2 separate regions of the Homo sapiens genome follow, and region 2 is linked to region 1. Evidence: fine-mapped expression QTL. A gene starts in region 1. The other region holds a variant in brackets. All regions are shown on one strand. Distances are from middle to middle. Region 1 holds the start of NSL1 (NSL1 component of MIS12 kinetochore complex). Region 2 holds the start of FLVCR1 (FLVCR choline and heme transporter 1).

Region 1 (11,589 bases):
GCTTATTCCTACCTTGGGACCTTTGTGCTTTGCTGTTTCCTTTGCACATAACACCCTGATCCTCTCTTTGCATGGCCAGTTCCTTTGTAGCATTCAGGTTGCAGCTCAATTGTCACTACCAGAGTCCTTCCTTGATGATATCATCTAACAATCAGCATTCACAACACCTACTATATAATCTTGTTTTACTGTCTTCAAAGCACTTAGTGCTATCGAAAGTTTTCCTGCTCATGTAATTGTTGACTGTCTGTCTGGGCCATCTAGAATCTAGCTTCCATGAGCAGGATCTTACTCATTATTGGGTCTGCAGTGCTGACAGCAGTGCCTGGCATGTAGCAGGTGCTCAGTACACACTGGTTGACTACCTAACTAAATGAATGTCTATTAGTATAAATCCCCACATAAATGAAAGAAGTGCTGCCTTGCTATGATTCCACATTTGTAGAATTGTGATTGGCAATGTAGCTAATTTTATCATACTTAACAATTCAGGATAGCTACAGGATAAGCATTTTTACCTGAAATGAATGAATTTTCTTTTCTTTTTTTTTTTTTTTTTTTTTTGAGTTTTTGAGAGATAGCGTCCATGTTGCCCAGGCTGGTCTTGAACTCCTGAGCTCAAGTGGTCCTCCCATCTCGGCCTCCCAAAGTGTTAGGATTACAGGTGTGAGCCACCATGCCTGGTCATGAATTTTATTTTGAAATAAGTAGAGCTAGCTACCTAAGGTATCTTAATATAGGAAGAGAGATACATTATTATTATTATTTTTTTTTTGAGATGGAGTCTCACTCTGTCACCCAGGCTGGAGTGCACTGGAGCAATCTCAGCTTACTACAATCTTCGCCTCCTGGGTTCAAACGATTCTCCCACCTTAGTCTCCCGAGTAGCTGGGACTACAGGTGCACGCCACCACACCTGGATAAGTTTTTGTATTTTTAGTACAGACAGGGTTTCACCATGTTAGCCAGGAAGGTCTCAATCTCCTGACCTCATGATCCACCCACCTCAGCCTACCAAAGTGCTGGGATTACAGGCACGAGCCACTGTGTCCAGCCTACATTATTATTTTTTAAATGGCACTATATCTTAATTTATTCATAGGTAACAAAAAGTCATTACTTCTTTGAAATGGGGCTATCAAACCCATTATGCAATAAAACACTCATGAAACTGTGGATCTTCCTGATGCTGAGTCAGGAGACAAGTGTGAAATATAAGACATACCAACTATCGTGAGTCAGTGCGGGTAGGATGTTTTTAGAGAGGGTACAAAATCAGTGCAATTTAATAGCTGGAGAGCAATCCTGTAACAATGGTTCTATGTTCAAAGATAATACTACTTACTTGAACTAATCTGTTCCCTAATAGTATATGGCACCTCTGAATTTGTATCTTTCTTTTTCTAGATATTCTATCACTTTTTTGCCAAAGCAACATGACTACAGTACCAAAAAAATGTGAAAAAAGTTACAGATAATTCTAACAGATCATCACAATTACTATCATTTCTGTGTTTTCTCTGCAGTCTTTTCCTTATGAATATATGCTTATGTAGATGTCACTCATAGTGAATATGCTATTTGGTATCCTGCTTTTCTCCCTATATTATACAGTAAGTATTTTCCATGTGCTATAATACTTTATAATCCTCATTTTCTATAAATGCATTATATTTAACACTCTACAACTTAACTAATGATTCCTTTGTTTCTGAACCTCTAGGCTGTTTCTACTTTTTCTCTATTACGAATAATGTTGCAACAAACATCTTTGTTAAAGAAGGTAATGTTTCCTTCTTTTGGATTATTTCCTGAGAATATAAATTAGAAAGAGGAGGATTACTGAGTCAAATAATTCTTTCGTTTGTTTGTTTTTAATGGTTCCTGTTTTGTATGACTGTTACCTTTAGTGTGACACTTCTTTGGTCTTCTGGTGGAAGTCCTTGAACTGGATGAACACCCAAGCATGGCAGGACAAACCCATTATACCTAAAAATGTAGAACCAACTGAGAAAGCAGGAACAGTAGACTAGTAGATTACAACGTATTCTAAAGAATAAGTAGAGGTCGGGCATGGTGGCTTATGTCTGTAATTCCAGCACTTTGGGAGGCTGAACCAGGTGGATCACTTAAGGCCAGGAGTTTGAGACCAGCCTGGCCAACATGGTGAAATCCTGTATCTACAAAAAATATAAAAATTAGCCAGGCCTGGTGGTGCATGCTTTAGACCCAGCTACTTGGGAGGCTGAGGCAGAGAATTGCTTGAAACCAGGAGGCAGAGGTTGCAGTGAGCCAACATTGCGCCACTGCACTCCAGCTTGGGTGACAGAGCAAGACTCCATCTCTCAAAGAAAAAAAAAAGGAATAAGTAGAAAATAATCTCTTTAGGGCTATGTTAAAATGCTTTTTCCTCTTTATTCTCTTTAAAAATGGATCTTTGATATTATAAACTGGATGTCATAACTGTGTTCTTATTAGCAACCCTTTAAAATCTTAATTAAAAGTAGCACCTTTCTGAAAGTTGCATAATCTTTTCAAATTCTCCTGAATGTTCGGCAACTGCCACAAGGGCCACAACATTGGCCTGAAAAAAAAAAAAAGAATAAAGTTACAAACAATATACATTTAATATAAATTATAGAAAATTTTAAAGTTTTCTCTGCATTTTAGTTATCCTTGTTCAGCCATGCTTCATCAATACAATCAGAAGGGCTATCATTGAGTATTTACTATGTTTCAGACCTTATGTTCAGTGAATATAAATATTGCCTCATTTAATTTACAGAAACCTATAAAGTAGGCTATAGTCTACTGTATAGATCAGGAGACAGAGTTTTGGATGTCGAATAACTTGCCCAAGGTCATCAGGTCTATATATGTCCAAAGCCCACATTCCTAATTAAGCTGCCACAGTGAAAGTTACCTGTATGTAAAAATGCACTACAACCATTTCTGGCTGTATCATTTTTTGAGATGGCCACAAAATGCTAGTTACAATGAATTTCATAAACACTTCCAAAAAAATAATTTTTCTAAGCAAATCAAAACATCTCAGAAAACTTTAATAATATATCCCAGATCTCCAGAACCACATGAATTTAAAAACTGAAAGATGGACCAATTTGTTCCATAGGGCTGTTGAGCATGGTAGCTATAGGAACATGTTTTGAATTCAGACTAACTTGTCTCTATCAGTTCACTAGCATGTGTCTTTGGACCAGTTACTCATCTCTAGGCCTTAGATTCCTCATCTATAAAAATGGGGAATGATTGGCTATAAATTAGTAATTTCCTCAGAAGGCTATTGTGAAACATTGAATGAGGTAAAGTCGAGAAAGGCCTTAGCTCACTACCTGGCATGTAGCAAACACTTAATAAATGCTACTTAGGCTGGGAGCAGTGCCGCATGCCTATAATCCCAGCATTTTGGGAGCCCAAGGTGGGTAGATTGCTTGAGCTCAGAAGTTTGACACCAGCCTGGGCAATATAGTCAGATCTTGTCTCTATTTTAATTATAAATAATAAAAATTGGCTGGTCGTAGTGGGTCACGCCTGCAATCTCAGCACTTTGGGAGGTCGAGGTGGGCAGATCACCTCAGGTCAGGAGTTCAAGACCAGCCTGGCCAACATGGTGAAACCCTGTCTCTACTAAAAATACAAAAATTATCTGGGTGCAGTGACGTGTGCCTATAGTCCCAGCTACTCAGGAGGCTGAGGCAGGAGAATCACTTGAACCTTGGAGGCAGAGGTTGCAGTGAGCTAAGATCACACGACTGCACTCCAGCCTGGGCGACAGAGCGAGACTCTGTCTCAATAAATAAATAAATAAATAAATAAAATAATAAAAATAAAAAATGCTACTTACTATAAACTACTGAAACATCAAGGTAGTATATCTAAATTTCAAGCTGTTTTGGCTTGAAATGATAGTTAAAATAAAAAACCAAAAGAGCAATTACAAATATTGACTTACCTTCTTGGCTTTCTCCAACACATCATCCAAATCCTAAAACAAGCATAAGAAATCACCATTATTTTAGATGAATAAGCAGCTAATCTTGGACTGTATATGTCAATGTAGTTGTGGCATCACAAAAAATAACAATGATAGCAACTAATGGAGTGGTGGAAAACAAAGAGCCTACACTGACCCACTTCCTGTTTACTCTTACTATCAGTAAAGTCTGGCTACTGTTCCCAGCACTAAAACAGAAGCCTCTATTGTCAAATATACAGGGTATTTCTCTGTCCTCATCTTACTCTACTCCTCAGCAGCATTCGGAATCCCTCACTTGCTTACTCCTTCCTTCTTGAAATGCTTTCCACCCTTCACTTCTGCAATACCACTCTCTCATTGGTGGCTACTTGTCAGTCTCCTTGACTAGCTCCCCTTCCTCTTTCAGACTTCAAGAACATCTGCTCCTCTCTCTGCACTTGCCTTGAGTGATTTCACTTCCTCTCATGGTTTTATCATCATTATGCTGAGGCCCCCATTTTTTTTCTTTTTTTTGAGATGAAGTTTCACTCTTGTCTCCCAGCTGTAGTGCAATGGTGCGATCTCGGCTCATTGCCACCTCTGCCACCCGGGTTCAAGTGATTCTCCTGCTTCAGCCTCCAGAGTAGCTGGGATTACAGGTGACCGCCACCACACTCAGCTAAATTTTGTATTTTTAGTAGAGATGGTGTTTCACCATGTTGGCCAAGCTGGTCTTTAACTCCTGATCTCAGGTGACCCACCCACCTTGGCCTCCCAAAGTGCTGGGACTACAGGTGTGAGCCATCGAACCCAGCCTGAGTCCCCAATTTTTTTTTTTTTTTTTGAGATGGAGTCTCGCTCTGTCACCCAGGCTGGAGTGCAGTGTCACGATCTCGGCTCACTGCAAGCTCCGCCTCCCGGGTTCACACCATTCTCCTGCCTCAGCCTCCCAAGTAGCTGGGACTACAGGCACATGCTGCCATGCCCAGCTAATTTTTTTGTACTTTTAGTAGCGACAGGGTTTCACCATGTTAGCCAGGATGGTCTCGATCTCCTAACCTTATGATCTGCCCACCTCGGCCTCCCAAAGTGCTGAGATTACAGGCATGAGCCACTGCGCCCGGCCCCCAATTTTTATCTTTAGCTTGTAATTCTCTCCTGAGCCCATGACTCATGTTTAAAAATTATGACATCTTCATTTGGATGGGATTAGGTTTCCCAATATGCCCCAAACATAAATCTTTATTTTCTCCCCACAAACCTATTCCTTCTGCTGACCTCCCCACCTCCACCTCAGACCTTGGTCTTCCCTTATCTCAGTAAACCAGCACCACCATCTTCCCTATAGCACAAGCTAATAATCTGAGTCATCCTTGACTCCTCCCTTTCCCTTGCTATCCACATCCAATTCTTCAGTACTTACTGTGGATTCTCTCTCTAAAATGTATCTTGAATCCATGTATTCATCTCAAACTCACCTGCTATCATCATAGTACCAACAGCCAACATCTCTTGCCTATATACTGCAAAAGCCTCCTAACTAGTCTTGTAGCTTCCACTCTTCTCCTCCACCCATTTGCCATACAGCAGCAAAATGGTGTTAAAATGGATAGCATCATGCCTATCCATTTTTGTGTAATCCCAGGACTTTGGGAGGCCAAGGAGGGTTGATCACTTGAGGCCAGAAGTTCAAGACCAGCCTGGACAACATGGCAAAACTCTGTCTCTATTAAAAATACAAAAAATTAGCCAGGCGTGGTGGGACACACCTGTGATCCCAGCTACTTGGGAGGCTGAGACAGGAGAATTTTTTGAGCCCAGGAGGTGGAGGTTGCAATGACCTGAGATCATGCTATTGCATTTCAGCCTGAGGGACACAGCCAGACTCAATCTAAAAAAATAAAAAAATGAAAATAAATTTTAAAAAAGCCCTTTAATGAATCTGCATTGTGCTTCAAATGCAATCCAAATTCCTTACTGACCCACCTCATCTATCCCCTGCAAACCTCCCCAGTTTTGTTTCATGCCTTTCTCTTTCTAGCTCATCAGGCTCCACTTAGCTTTTTGGCAACTGAAATGTGCCAAATTCTAGCTTGTCTGGGGGCCTGCAACCTATCTGTTTCCCTAACCAGCATACACTCACCCCCTTGCTTGGGTGGCTCCTTGTCTTTTCAGCCTTAAGTGTCAGCTCCTGGGAGGATTTCCCCCTGAAATAAAACCCCCCTTAATCCTCTATTATTAGTCTCTAGTTTCCCACGTAATGGGTAAAACAGTTTGTAACTGATTTTACGTGTGTATTATTATTTTAATTGAGACGGGGTCTCACCACATTGCCCAGGCTGGTCTCAAACTCCTGGGCTCAAGCGATCCACCCACTTCGGCCTCTCATAGTGCTAGGATTACAAGTGTGAGCAACCACACTCGGCCATGTATTTTTGTTTGTTTGTTTGCCTCTCTCCCCCATTTGTGAATTTTTTTTTTTTTTTTTTTTTGAGACAGGGTCTCACTGTTACCCAGGCTGGAGTGCAGTGGCTTGATGTCAGCTCACTGCAACCTCCACCTCCTGGGCTCCAGCGATTCTCCCACCTCAGCCTCCCGAGTAGCTGGGACCACAGGCAAACGCCACAATCACCGGCTTTTTTTTTTTTTTTGTAGGGACGAGGTTTCACCATGTTGCCCAGGCTGGTCACGATCTCCTGGACACAGGAGATGCGCAGCGCCCGCCTCGGCCTCCCAAAGTGCTGGGATTACGGGCGTGAGCCCGCGCCCGACCTCTCCCCGATTTGAACGCGTTTCGAGGACCGCTTCCCACAAAGAGTGGCATCTCAGCCAGGAGGTGAGAGCCCCGAGGGGAAAAACAGGCCAGCCAAGGGGAGTGAGGGAACGATTCCAGGAACTCAGAAGAGCAAACAAAAGCCTTGTGGAGATAGCTTACCGCTACTGAATCAGGAAAAAAAAATCGGTATGTCTGAGGTTAAATAGGGAATAGGGAAATGAGGGGCAAGGTCATATGGCCATAAACAAGGGTCTGGGCGGGGGATATGGGGTTTCGTCCCAAGGGAGGAGAGCAAAGATAACACGAGGGGAAAGGACGGGGGCCTCCCTGCTCCCTCTGGTCCCGTATCGCCCTCACATACGCGGTCAAAGTCCGGGGCGGAGAGGTGGCAGTGACAGTCCACCAAGCCTACGCCAGCCGCTCGCATTGCGCCCCGGCGGCTGCCGCTTTAGACCGGCCAGCAGAGCCGGAGCCGGAACGTTTCAGCTGCAGCGTCCTGAGTTTCCAGCCGGATGCATGCTGGTTACACCAGTGTGAACCCGCTTTTCCGCTCCCAGAGTGCCCCGCCCACAGTTCCGACGAAAAATGGCGGGGTCTCCTGAGTTGGTGGTCCTTGACCCTCCATGGGACAAGGAGCTCGCGGCTGGCACAGAGAGCCAGGCCTTGGTCTCCGCCACTCCCCGAGAAGACTTTCGGGTGCGCTGCACCTCGAAGCGGGCTGTGACCGAAATGCTACAACTGTGCGGCCGCTTCGTGCAAAAGCTCGGGGACGCTCTGCCGGAGGAGATTCGGGAGCCCGCTCTGCGAGATGCGCAGTGGGTACGGGACCAGTTAGCCAGTTCTTTACTCATCATCCTCTTACCCAACACCCAGGATCTTAGGATTCAGAAAGATCCCACGCCAGGCCTTGGCAGAATTAACGGTGCCCCAGGCTACTGTAGAACCAGTTCGAGAAACGCTAGAGGAGAAAGAAATAGATGCTAATGTCAGCTGGGTCTTATTAATTACTTAGACCAGCGCTGTCCAGTGAAAATACAAGGCAAGCTAATCTTTATGTAGTTTTAAACTAAAAGTAAGAAATAGGTGAAGTTAATGGAAATAAGACATTTTGTTTAACCCAATAAATCCAAGGTATTTTAACATGTAATAATATCAAATGAATGAGATATTTTACATTCTTTTGTTCGTACTAAGCTTTTCAAATCTGGTGTGCTGCATTTACGGCACATCTTCGAACTAGTTACATTTAAGCGCTCAGTAACTACAAAGTGGCTAGTGGCTCACCTGTTGGACAATGCAGCCGCAGACAATGAGGAATTCTCCTGGAAAGGGTAATTCTGGAAGTCAGCCATTCACCCAAGCAGCATTTGATCTTTCCTTTTGCATGTTTTATTTATTTATTTATTTTATTTTATTTTTTTTTTTTGAGACAGAGTCTCGCTCTGTCGCCCAGGCTGGAGTGCAGTGGCGCGATCTCGGCTCACTGCAAGCTCCGCCTCCTGGGTTCACGCCATTCTCCTGCCTCAGCCTCCTGAGTAGCTGGGACTCCAGGCGCCTGCCACCACGCCCGGCTAATTTTTTTGTGTTTTTAGTAGAGACAGGGTTTCACCGTGTTAGCCAGCATGGTCTCGATCTCCTGACCTCGTGATCCGCCCGCCTTGGGCTCCCAAAGTGCTGGTATTACAGGCGTGAGCCACCTCGCCCGGCCTATTAACCTTTATTTTTACTGTTTGCACTGTGGTCATTCATAACTCACAAATGTGCGGTATTATGAGCTTTTAAATTTTTTCCGCTAATATAAGTAGATTGGTGCCTGTTATAAGGAAGCACACAATCCCTTTATTTCTTGTGTTCCCAAAAAACTACCACCTTCAGGGCTTTGCAAAAATATTTAAGAAAGGCTTGGGAAATGTGGTATAGAGGCAAATGTATGATCTTAGTAAAGTTTTCAACCAACACAATTTTTTTTAACCTATTTTAGTCTTGTAAAGAAAATGTTTTCACTCTAAAACAGGCAAAAGGGGTCGGGCGCGGTGGCTCACGCCTGTAATCCCAGCACTTTGGGAGGCCGAGGCGGGCGGATCACGAGGTCAGGAGATCGAGACCATCCTGGCTAACATGGTGAAACCCCGTCTCTACTAAAACAATAATAATAATAATACAAAAAATTAGCCGGCCATGGTGGCAGGCACCTGTAGTCCCAGCTACTCGGGAGGCTGAGGCAGGAGAATGGCGTGAACCCGGGAGGCGGAGCTTGCAGTGAGCCCAGATCTCGCCACTGCACTCCAGCCTGGGTGACAGAGCGAGACTCCATCTCAAAAAAAAAAGGTTCAGTGGAAGAATGAAGAAACACTTCCTGGGTTGTGACTCTGTATGTAGTTTTGTATATAGTGACTCTTACGTCATTCCCTCCTTGCAAGCAAGGCAAGAATAGGGATATATCTCAGGACGTTTTTAGTAGTTTTTTGGGAGAAGACTTTTGTTGTATAATCTTAGAATTTGTCTGATTCTAGGAAATGCTAAGGTATTTAAAACATTTAGGTGTCTTACAGAAAAAGAGGAACTTGGCTTAACCTATTATATCCTATTTAGTGGGACGATAAAGTGAATTATAAGATAAAGTTTACAGGGCTTAGACTACCACAGGAATTCACTTGTGTTTTATTTTAAATAAAGCAGAAGCTTTATTTTGTATCTCTGTTTAAAACTGCATATTAAGTAGCAGATTTTCTTTAAAAACAGTATTGGTAGCAGTCTGCAATGAATGTTACAAAGACAATATGTTTTCTCAGCAATTCTTGAAAGTAATTCTAGAAAATAATTTTAAAACATACATAGGCCGGGCGCGATGGCTTACGCCTGTAATCCCAGCACTTTGGGAGGCTGAGGCGGGCGGATCACCTGAGGTCAGGAGTTCCAGACCAGCCTGGCCAACACGGTGAAACCCTGTCTATACTAAAAATACAAAAATTAGCCGGGTGTGATGGCGCTTGCCTGTAATCCCAGCTATTCGGGAGACTGAGGCAGGAGAATCGCTTGAACCTGGGAAGCGGAGGTTGCAGTGAGCCAAGATTGCGCCATTGCACTCCAGCCTGGTTGACAAGAGTGAAACTCCATCTCAAAAAAAACAAAAAACAAACAAACAAAAAATAAAATAAGGATTTTACTTTATGAAATCTTTGAAATGTAGAATATGTACTTTAACTCATAATTATCAGTAATTTGGTTTATGTTATTTTTAATTATACAAAGGGTACAAAATATATGCTCATAAAAAAATTCAAACAGTAGCATAAAGCAAAATTCTTTGAGTTCCCCTTCCCCATCCCTCTTCCTTCTAGGACATAAGGTACTATTTTGGAGAGTACTTGGGGAGAGTAAACTTTCTATACCCCCTTTCTGTGGCTTTACCTCTTTCTCTCTGTTTATGTTTGTTTGTCTCCATTAATAATGTCATGCTGATGAATTGTTATTGACCTGCCTTTTTTGAAACCAAACATGTCTATTATTTGTTAGTGTTACGTAGAGCTTGTCTTCATCCTTTTTAGGTACTGCGTGGTATGAATATTGTCTATTTAACTCTTCTAATTTTGACTTTAGGTTTTTTCCCACAATTTTAAAAATTTCAAACAGTGCTGAAATGAACATTTCTAGCACATTCTCTTTAGTTTTTATGAGAGTAGTCCTTTAGGATGCATTGCTAGAAGTGAAATTGTTGGGTAATAGGAAATGTGTACTGCCGAATTCCTTTAGTCCATCATTTAAAAAAAATTTTGATGAAGTCCAATTTGTCTATTTTTTGTTTGTTTTTGTTTTTTGTTTTTTGGTTCTTTATCTTTTAATGTATTATGAACATTTTCAACCTTACAAAAAATTAGTTTAGTACAGTGGACACCCATATATCCACCACCAAACTCAACAGTTGTCAAAATTTTGTTACAGTTGCTTCTCCCTCTGTCTCCCAGGCTGGAGTACAGTGGCAATCATAGCTCACTGTATTCTCAAACCACTGGGCTCAAGTAATCCTCTAGCCTCAGCCTTTCAAGTAGCCGGGACTACAGGCATGTGCCACTGTGCCTGGCTAATTTTTAAATTTTTTAGTAGAGAAGGTTGTCTCAGTGTGTTGCCTAGGCTGGTCTGGAACTGGCCTCAAGCAATCCTCTTGCCTTGGCTTCCCAAAGTGATGGGATTATAGGCGTGAGCCACTGCACCTGGCCTACGTTTGCTATTTTAAAGCATATCTTAGATCTCATGTCATTTCATCGCTACATAAGTGTTCATCTCTCAAAAATACAGCCCTTTATAAAATATAATTTTATTTTTAAGCATGTATGTTTTCCCTCTTGTTAACATCAACAGTCATTCAGCAGCATATATAGTACTTATACCCCTGAGATTCAACTGAGCCTAAATTTGTTAGATTTTATTTTTTCTTTCATTCTAGGAGTACTTTTTTTTGTTTGTTTATAAGAATATTCCAAAATTTTAAATCAGATTTTCTCTTGGGTAGCATAATGGCTATGAGACCCAAAATGTAGGTAGAATCAATGATTGAAGTGGAATCTTCATTGAAAAGAATAGATATACTAATTAGCTATTCTGCTACTTTTATTTCCTCTGTCACAAATCTGGAAGTATTATTTTGCTAAAACGTTTGAATTTAGTATTTAAAATTATTTTTAGTGACTTGACTACTGTGAATTTATTGCAGACTTTTGAATCAGCTGTGCAAGAGAATATCAGCATTAATGGGCAAGCATGGCAGGAAGCTTCAGATAATTGTTTTATGGGTATGTGACTTTTTCCTTCCATTATTAATTTCTGGGTTATTTTTGCA
Region 2 (8,000 bases), 62 kb before region 1:
TGACAAGGTCGTTTGGAAAATTTTGTCCTTACAAAGAAATTTATAGCCCACTTCAATCCAAGACGGCCTCCTATTCAACGGCTTCATCTCCTCTTTTATAGACAAATACCTCCTGGGGCAGTTCATCCATACAGGCCATAGTTCTCACGGCCTATGACTTTTTCCGGTCTTTTAAGGATCTGACTTTCACCTACCACTCCAGTACTTACCTGATTGCCCAGCACGGCGGTGGCACAAGCTGTGGACACCTCTTTGGGCCCAAACCACACTGAGGCGATGCGGGAGGGCAAGCCCAGGATGAACACCTGGGCCACCGAGCACAAGCACTGGCCCAACATGGTGACCCAGAAGAGATGCTGCTGCACACTGCCGCACTTGATCCAGGCACCCAGGCAGTTGAGGCCGGAGCCCAGCAGGGCGGTGAGCCGCAGGCCTCTGGTGTCCAGCAGCCAGGTGGCCGGGAAGATGAGGGGCACGTAGGCCAGCATGTACACCATGGACAGCCAGTCGATGTGCAGCAAGGTGACACCGTAGAAGCCCTCGAAGACGTTGCTAATGATGCTGTACTGGATCCACTGAAAGGCGTTGACCAGCGAGTACAGGCTGAAGATCAGGAGCACCACGAAGCGCCGCGGGGAGAGCGCCGTAAGGGGCAGCGGGCTGCTCTCGGCCCCCGGGGTCTCAGCTCCCGCGCCCGCAGGCAGCAGCCGGGCCTGGGTCTCCTCTTCTGGGGCCAGTGGAGTCTGAGGCCCGCCCAGAACTCCCGAGGCGGCAGCGAGGCTGTCCCGGGGGGCCCCATTCACCGGGAAGGTGCCCGCTTTGGGCCCGTTCTGCAGCTCCACGCTCTCCTTCCCAACGGGCGCGCCCCTCGGCAACGGGAGGTATCCTTTCGCGAGCGGGTGTCCGGGCGCCACCGCCGCCCCCTCCTCATCGTCTGGCCGCGCCATATCCCAGGCTCCCCGGCGCCACCTCGCTCCCCCGCCCCACTCCCCGACTCCGCTCTCCCGGCCCACAGCCCGAGGTCCTCCTGGGGCCCCACCTCCAACCCCTCGGCCCACCGCTCCTTCCCCGGTGGCGCGCGCCGCGAACCGCAATCCGCGCTACCGCGTGAACAGATGAAGGTCTCCTCCCCCGCGCCGCGCGGCAGTCACCCCTTGTCTGGTCCCGCCCCTAGAGTCGCGCGTCCTGCATGACTACGGCCCTCCGGCCAATCAGCGTGCGCCTTTGTCCGGCGCGAGAGCCAGTCGGGGAGCTACCGGGCGAGAACTTCGGGAGGCGGGGGAGGAAAGCGGCCGGCGAGCGCTGGCTGACATTTTCCTGCCCGGAAGGATGCATGGCCCGGGGTCTCCTGCACCTGAGGGTGGGCGGGAGGCGGCCCCGCGGGTTGTGTTGCTGGAAAAAGGGGTCTCGATCCAGACCCCAAGAGAGGGTTCTTGGGTCTACTTCAGGGAAGAATTGGAGGCGAGTCACAGAGCGCAGTGAAGGAAGCAAGTTTATTGGAATCTACTCCGTTAGAGAGTGCAAGTCCTCAGACTGCAGGAGGAGGAACTCCCGTCCTTCGGTAGTGTCACTACTTAGAGGCAGCTGTGAGGAGCTGTGATTAATCGTGGAATGTGCTGATGTGCCCACTAAAGGTAGGGGCTGTTGGTGCACTAATGACCATTAATCCTTCAACCTAAGCCTGCGCATTGACGTTATCTCTGAGTAGAGGGCTGGGCCGGGCTCGGTGGCCACGTCTGTAATCCCAGCACTGTGGGAGGCCGGACAGGAGTCTCCCTTGAGCCCAGGAGTTCGAGACCAGCCTGGGCAACATACTGAGATGCCATCTATTTAAAAAAAAAAAAAAAAAAAAAAAAGCCAGTAGCCAGGCGTGGTGGTGCATGCCTGTAGTCCCAGCTACTCAGGAGGCTGAGGCAGGAGAACTACTTGAACCTGGGAGGCGGAGGTTGCAGTGAGCTGAGATCGCACCACACTGCCCTCCAGCCTAGCCTGGGCGACAAAGTGAGACCTTGTCTAAAAAAAAAAAAAAAACTCAGGACATCTGGACAATTCCGCAGACTTGGTGGGAGATGTCCTGTATGGCCATAAATATTGTGTAATTATAATTGTTGGTCAGCTTAGAATGCGGCTATTTTCAGACCTTTAGCATTAACCTTATAGGTGCCTTGTGAGTGCCTAGTTACTCACTTTAACATGCAGTCGCTCTAGCCATGTTTTATTAAACCAGATGCCTGGTAAGCAGTGGCTCCTCTAACAAGTGGGCAGCTTGGAACTGGGAACGAGAGAGCCACCGAAACAGAATGAGGGAGACAAAGAAGTGGGCATCACCCTTAACTCCACAAGGGCTTCCCAAGGGCGCTGTACCGTACGCAGGCCCAGGACGAACTTTATTTCTCGCCCCAGCATCGCTGTCCTTGTCGGTGAGACCCTGGCTTTAGGGCAGACAGGACCACGTTTCATAAGTTCATGCTGTCCCAGCAGAGGAATAACGCCAGAAAGTGTTCCAGTACAACCAGAGAAAGAGAGTCCATGAGAAATCTGCCCTTGTGAAGTTGGAATCCCCTCAACCTCACCCCGCTGACTTGAATGAAGCGACTGAGACGGGCTATGATGGAGCAGATCCGGTTGCTCGACCTTCTCCCTTGCACCAACACATGTAGTTAATAGTTACTGGACATGCATATTCAGTGGGTTCCAGGTACCAAACTTGTATTGAATGGTATGTGCCAGACACCGTCTTGAGATCTGGAGAATAAAAAAATAAAAAAATAAAAACGAGACATCCAGAGCACAGTAGCCTTGCGGTCTTCCTGGAACTAGAGAAAATTCAGCCCTTCTGCTCCTTGGGAAGCTATGTTTGGGAAAAAAAAAAAAAGAGAGAGAGAGAGACTCCAAAGAGTTTGTTATTAAATTTAAGTTCAAACTAGGTGTATATAGTACAAAAGTTCTTACCATGCATTTAATCTTAAAATGTGCTGATATCTAGAACCCTAAAACCCTGCACTTTTTTATTGCCTCTTACATTATTATTTTGGTCATGTATGAAATATATCAGGCATCTCTCGGTACAGGTGAAATGCTACATGTTCTAAACTAAGGAATAAGTGCATTATTATAATGTCTTCCTTGGCCAAACTGTATAAATCCCCCCCTCCGCCCGCCCCGGCCAACATCCCTTCCCTGCTTTTTTTTTTCTTTCTTTCCTAGTGCTTACCTTCACCTAAAATGTCCTATATTTTTACTTTTTTTTTCTGGTTATTTTCTTTCTTTCTTTTTTTTTTTGACAGTCTTGCTCTGTCACCCAGGCTGGAGTGCAGTGGCGCGATCTCGGCTCACTGCAACCTCCACCTCCCAGGTTCAAGCGATTCTTCTGCCTCAGCCTCCCGAGTAACTGGAACTACAGGCCCGCGCCATCATGCCTGGCTAATTTTTGTATTTTTCTTTAGTGGAGACAGGGTTTCACCATATTGGCCAGGCTGGTCTTGAACTCCTGACCTCGTGATCCGCCCGCCTCAGCCTCGCAAAGTGCTGGGATTACAGGCCTGAGCCACCGAGCCTGGCCTCTTTCTTTCTTTTCTTTCTTTCTCTCTCTCTTTCTTTCCTTCTCTCTCTCTCTCTCGGCTGACCACCAAGCCTGAGTACTTTTTGTATTTTTTGTAGAGATGGGGTTTTGCCACATTGCTCAGACTGGTCTCAACTGATCAGCTCACTTCGGCCTCCCAAAGTGCTAGGATTACAGGCATGAGCCATTGTGCTGGGCCTTTTTCTGGTTATTTTCTCCCTGCCCACTAGAATGTGAGTTCCATAAGGGCAGGGCTGAAAGTTTTGTTGCTTTTTGCTACCGCTACTATTTTTCAAGAATTTGTAACCAGTGTACTTTGTGCGAGTACCTAGCACATAGTAGCTGTTCAATAAATATTTACTGAGTACAGCTAATGAATACTGAATTACCGTGAATATTTTAAATAATTACTTGCTTTGTAAAGAAATCTATTTCTTCTCTCTGCCCAACTGCTGCTGCATCGCCATCACAGACACCAGCCATGTGCAGCCTATCTAGCTAGCCAGGGTCACCAAGGTCCTGGGCAGAACCAGCTCTCAGGGACAGTGCATGCGGGAATTTATGGAAGACACAAGCCACTCCATCATCCACAGTGTAAAAGACCCCATGCGCAAGGGCTATGTGCTCACCCTGTTGGAGTCAGAGCGAGAGGCCTGGAGGTTGCACTGAGCTTGGCTGCTCACTGGGTCTTGGATGTTGGGTTCGACCACTTGGTCCATGAGAATGCTGTGCCATGATCTGCTCCTTTATTTTATTTGCCAGCCGCACAGGAATTGAGATATGCATTTAAATAAAGTGTTTGTGTGCCAAATTAGAAAGAAAAGAAAGGAAAGAGACAAAGAAAGAAGAGAGAGAGAAAGAAAGAAAGAGAGAAAAAGAAAGGAAGGAAGGAAAAAAGGAGGGAGGAGAGAAGGAAGGAAATCTTTTTTTAAATTATTATTATTATTTTT[T/A]TTTTTTTTTTGAGACGGAGTTTCGCTCTTGTCACCCAGGCTGGAGTGCAGTGATGCGATCTCGGCTCACTGCAACCTCTGTTTCCGGGGTTCAAGCGATTCTCCCTCCTCAGCCTCTCAAGTAGCTGGGATTAAGGCGCCCACCACCACGTGAAATCTGTTTCTTAAAAAAAAAAAATCTTGGCCAGGTGCAGTGGCTTACGCCTGTAATCCCAGCACTTTAGGAGGCCGAGGCGGGTGGATCACGAGGTCAGGAGATCAAGACCATCCTGGCTAACACGGTGAAGCCCATCTCTACTAAAAATACAAAATATTAGCCGGGCATGGTGGTGGGCGCCTGTAGTCCCAGCTACTCGAGAGGCTGAGGCAGGAGAATAGCGTAAACCCAGGAGGTGGAGCTTGCAGTGAGCCGAGATCGCGCCACTGCACTCCAGCCTGGGCGATAGAGCGAGACTCCGTCTCAGAAAAAAACAAAAACAAAAACAAAAACAAAAAAAGTCTTGCAAACTTCCAGAAGGAAGGGAAGGAGGGAGTGAAATCTATTTCTTTCTCTTTTCCTTTTTCTTTTTTTGACACAGAGCTTTGCCCTTGGAGTCCAGGCTGGAGTGCAATGATGAAATCTCAGCTGACTGCAACTTCTGCCTCCCGGGTTCAAGTGATTCTCCTGCCTCAGCCTCCCAAGTAACTGAGATTACAGGTGCCCACACCCGGGTAATTTTTGTATTTTTAGTAGAGACAGGGTTTCTCCATGTCGGTCAGGCTGGTCTCGAACTCCTGACCTCAGGTGATCCACCTACCTCAGCCTCCCAAAGTGCTGGGGTTACAGGCATGAGCCACCGTGCCCGGCCACCATTCTAATTTCTTAATCTTGTCTTCTTTCTCTGGCTTCAGTGGTAGATATTTATTAACCAGTTTAAACATGAGTCATTATTTATATCAAATGTTTGGATGTATAACGTAAAATGAACCTTAATCTCTGTCAAAAAAGATACTACTGGGAGCATCGTTTGGCTGGGAGTCAAGATGAGATTGAGCTACTTTATGGGTGTGGAATGCCAAGTCAGAGAGATTTGAATAAGTAACACTTCAGCAATATGAGATCTGGACAGCATCCAGGAGCCAAGGTCCAAGATGCTAATAGGAGTGATGTAGCTGTCCCTGAACAAAGGTTTGCCACAGTTTACGAGCCTCAGAGGTTAAGATGCAAACCAGAACAATGCTATTGGATGTGCAATCCATGATGTTTCATGGGGAGGTGGGTAGATTTGGGCAACCTTGCCTTCAGTTTACTCCTACTAGCATCAGGCTCTGTCCACCTGATCAGCAGAGGCTATATGGTTCTATTTTGTGAAAAGATCAAGTTGGAAATGGAGGAGTAGAGGAGAAGGTTGGAAATCAGAATCCTCCCACATGTATTCTTCCCTCCATTGAGACATTTTATTTGTATATATTTATTCCTGAAAAAAAAAAAAAAAAAAGAGTCCCAGGATTTTTTCTCCTGTGTTTTTGTCTTGTTTCTTCTCGGTCCATGATGCCAGTTGAGGTCATCAGTACAGCGAAACCAAACTGGTGAGATGGGAACAAATTATTCTGTCACTTTTCTAGATCTTTTTATTTATTTTTTTATTTATTTTTTGAGATGGAGTCTCGCTCTTGTTGCCCAGTCTGGAGTGCAATGGCGAGCCTGGGTTCAAGACCAGCCTGGGTAACATGGCGAAACCCCTTCTCTACCAAAAAAATACAGTATTTAGCTGGGCCTGGTGCATGCCTGTAGTCCCAGCTACCTGAGAGGCTGAGGTGGGAAGATCGCTTGAGCCCAGGAGGTCAAGGCTGCAATGGGCTGAGATCACGCCACTCCAGCCTAGGCAACAGAGTGAGGCCTTGTCAAAAAAAAAAAAGAGAGAGAGAGAGATACAAGCCTTCAGAGACCCTCATATTAACTTCATGGTAAATCTGCCTCTGCTCACCCCTCCCACCTGTAGCAACTAATATCTTCATTTCCAGATTTACTCTGAAAAAACTGTGCAACTGCTTCACATGTTTCCTCTTGATTCACTAATTTGTAACTCACTTACTGAAACTCTGATGAAAGAATTGAGTCAAAAAATAAATAGACCTCCTTCCCAGCCCTGGCTTGTTCAGAGCATCTACTACAGAGGAGTCTTAAGGGTTTTGTATGCTTAGAGTTGAGAGACCAAATAGCTCCTGAAAACTGTAGCTAGAGGAAATGCCATATGGAGACAGGCCACAAGGAGAACTCAAGCCCCTGTAAACCAAAAATGAAATATTCTAAGCCCCCAATTTACTAAACAGATTCAACCTCCCACTTCAGCCTCCCAAATAGCTGGGATTACAGGCGCATGCAACCATGCCCGGCAAATTTTTGTGTTTTTTGTAGAGATGGGGTTTCGCCATGTTGGCCAGGCTGGTCTTGAACTCCTGACTTCAAGTGATCTGTCCACCTCACCCTCCCAAAGTGCTGGGATTAGTGAGCCACTGCAACAGCCCTCTAACACTTATTTCTGAAGTTTTTTTTCTTCCCTCCTTCTCGGAAGCCCCTTCCTCCCTCTCTTGTTGCCTTAAGGTACCTTCACCCTGGCTAGGCCCTATTGTTCTTTTATCGGTTTTTTGTTTGTTTCTTTAGCCTACATATGCTCTTCCACCTGGGTTATACAAATGCAAAGTACACCCTAGTTCCATGCTGGGCCTTATTATTAACAAGAACTTTCTGAATCTCTTAAGATGTAGTGAAAGCAGATATACATAAACTATGTTGAACTAAACTGTATTTTCTTTTTTTTATTTCACTTTAAAAATTTATTTTCATACCAAAAAAATCATTCAAAGACAGTATTAAAAAGGATGACAAAATACATAAAATTGGCAGATGTCTTACACTAAAATAAAGTTGGTTTTCCCAGATCTGAATGGTTTTATACTACTTGATATTCCCAATTGGTCCTGAAATAAACTCCATACCCTCCCTAATACTATCTGAATGGCACTAATATTTTACTATATTAATATTCGAATGGCGATTTGGAAGGGAGAGGTCTCACTCACAGGTATCTTCTTTTTTTTTTTTTTTTTTTTTTTTACTCCAATTTTTACTTTTCTTTTTTTTTTTTATTATACTTTAAGTTTTAGGGTACATGTGCACATTGTGCAGGTTAGTTACATATGTATACATGTGCCATGCTGGTGCGCTGCACCCACTAACTCGTCATCTAGCATTAGTTATATCTCCCAATGCTATCCCTCCCCCCTCCCCCCACCCCACCACAGTCCCCAGAGTGTGATATTCCCCTTCCTGTGTCCATGTGATCTCATTGTTCAATTCCCACCTATGAGTGAGAATATGCGGTGTTTGGTTTTTTGTTCTTGCGATAGTTTACTGAGAATGATGGTTTCCAGTTTCATCCATGTCCCTACAAAGGACAAAGACACAACATACCAGAATCTCTGGGACGCATTCAAAGCAGTGTGTA

Evidence for each region. PIP is the estimated chance that this variant, and not a neighbour inherited with it, causes the effect.
Region 2: its variant is fine-mapped to the expression of NSL1 in monocytes after interferon gamma (Fairfax 2014, PIP 0.94).

What each region holds. Positions count from the first base shown.
Region 1 is chr1:212,787,512-212,799,100 of GRCh38, reverse strand. It overlaps NSL1 (NSL1 component of MIS12 kinetochore complex), which reads left to right and starts at 7,324. Exons shown (of 6, transcript NM_015471.4): 1 at 7,324-7,571; 2 at 11,464-11,542. The coding sequence starts at 7,338. TATDN3 (TatD DNase domain containing 3) reads right to left here and starts at 7,207. Exons shown (of 10, transcript NM_001042552.3): 1 at 7,114-7,207; 2 at 3,974-4,006; 3 at 2,511-2,584; 4 at 1,905-1,989. The coding sequence starts at 7,179. RefSeq lists enhancers at 4,146-4,195, 4,536-4,605, 4,484-4,984, 7,119-7,398, 7,873-8,651.
Region 2 is chr1:212,851,400-212,859,399 of GRCh38, reverse strand. It overlaps FLVCR1 (FLVCR choline and heme transporter 1), which reads right to left and starts at 1,125. Exons shown (of 10, transcript NM_014053.4): 1 at 210-1,125. The coding sequence starts at 947. FLVCR1-DT (FLVCR1 divergent transcript) reads left to right here and starts at 1,262. Exons shown (of 2, transcript NR_027286.1): 1 at 1,262-1,634; 2 at 2,482-2,796. It also overlaps the pseudogene RPS28P2. RefSeq lists silencers at 675-884, 965-1,024 and an enhancer at 6,825-7,412. The variant T/A (reference allele first, on the strand shown) is at 4,513.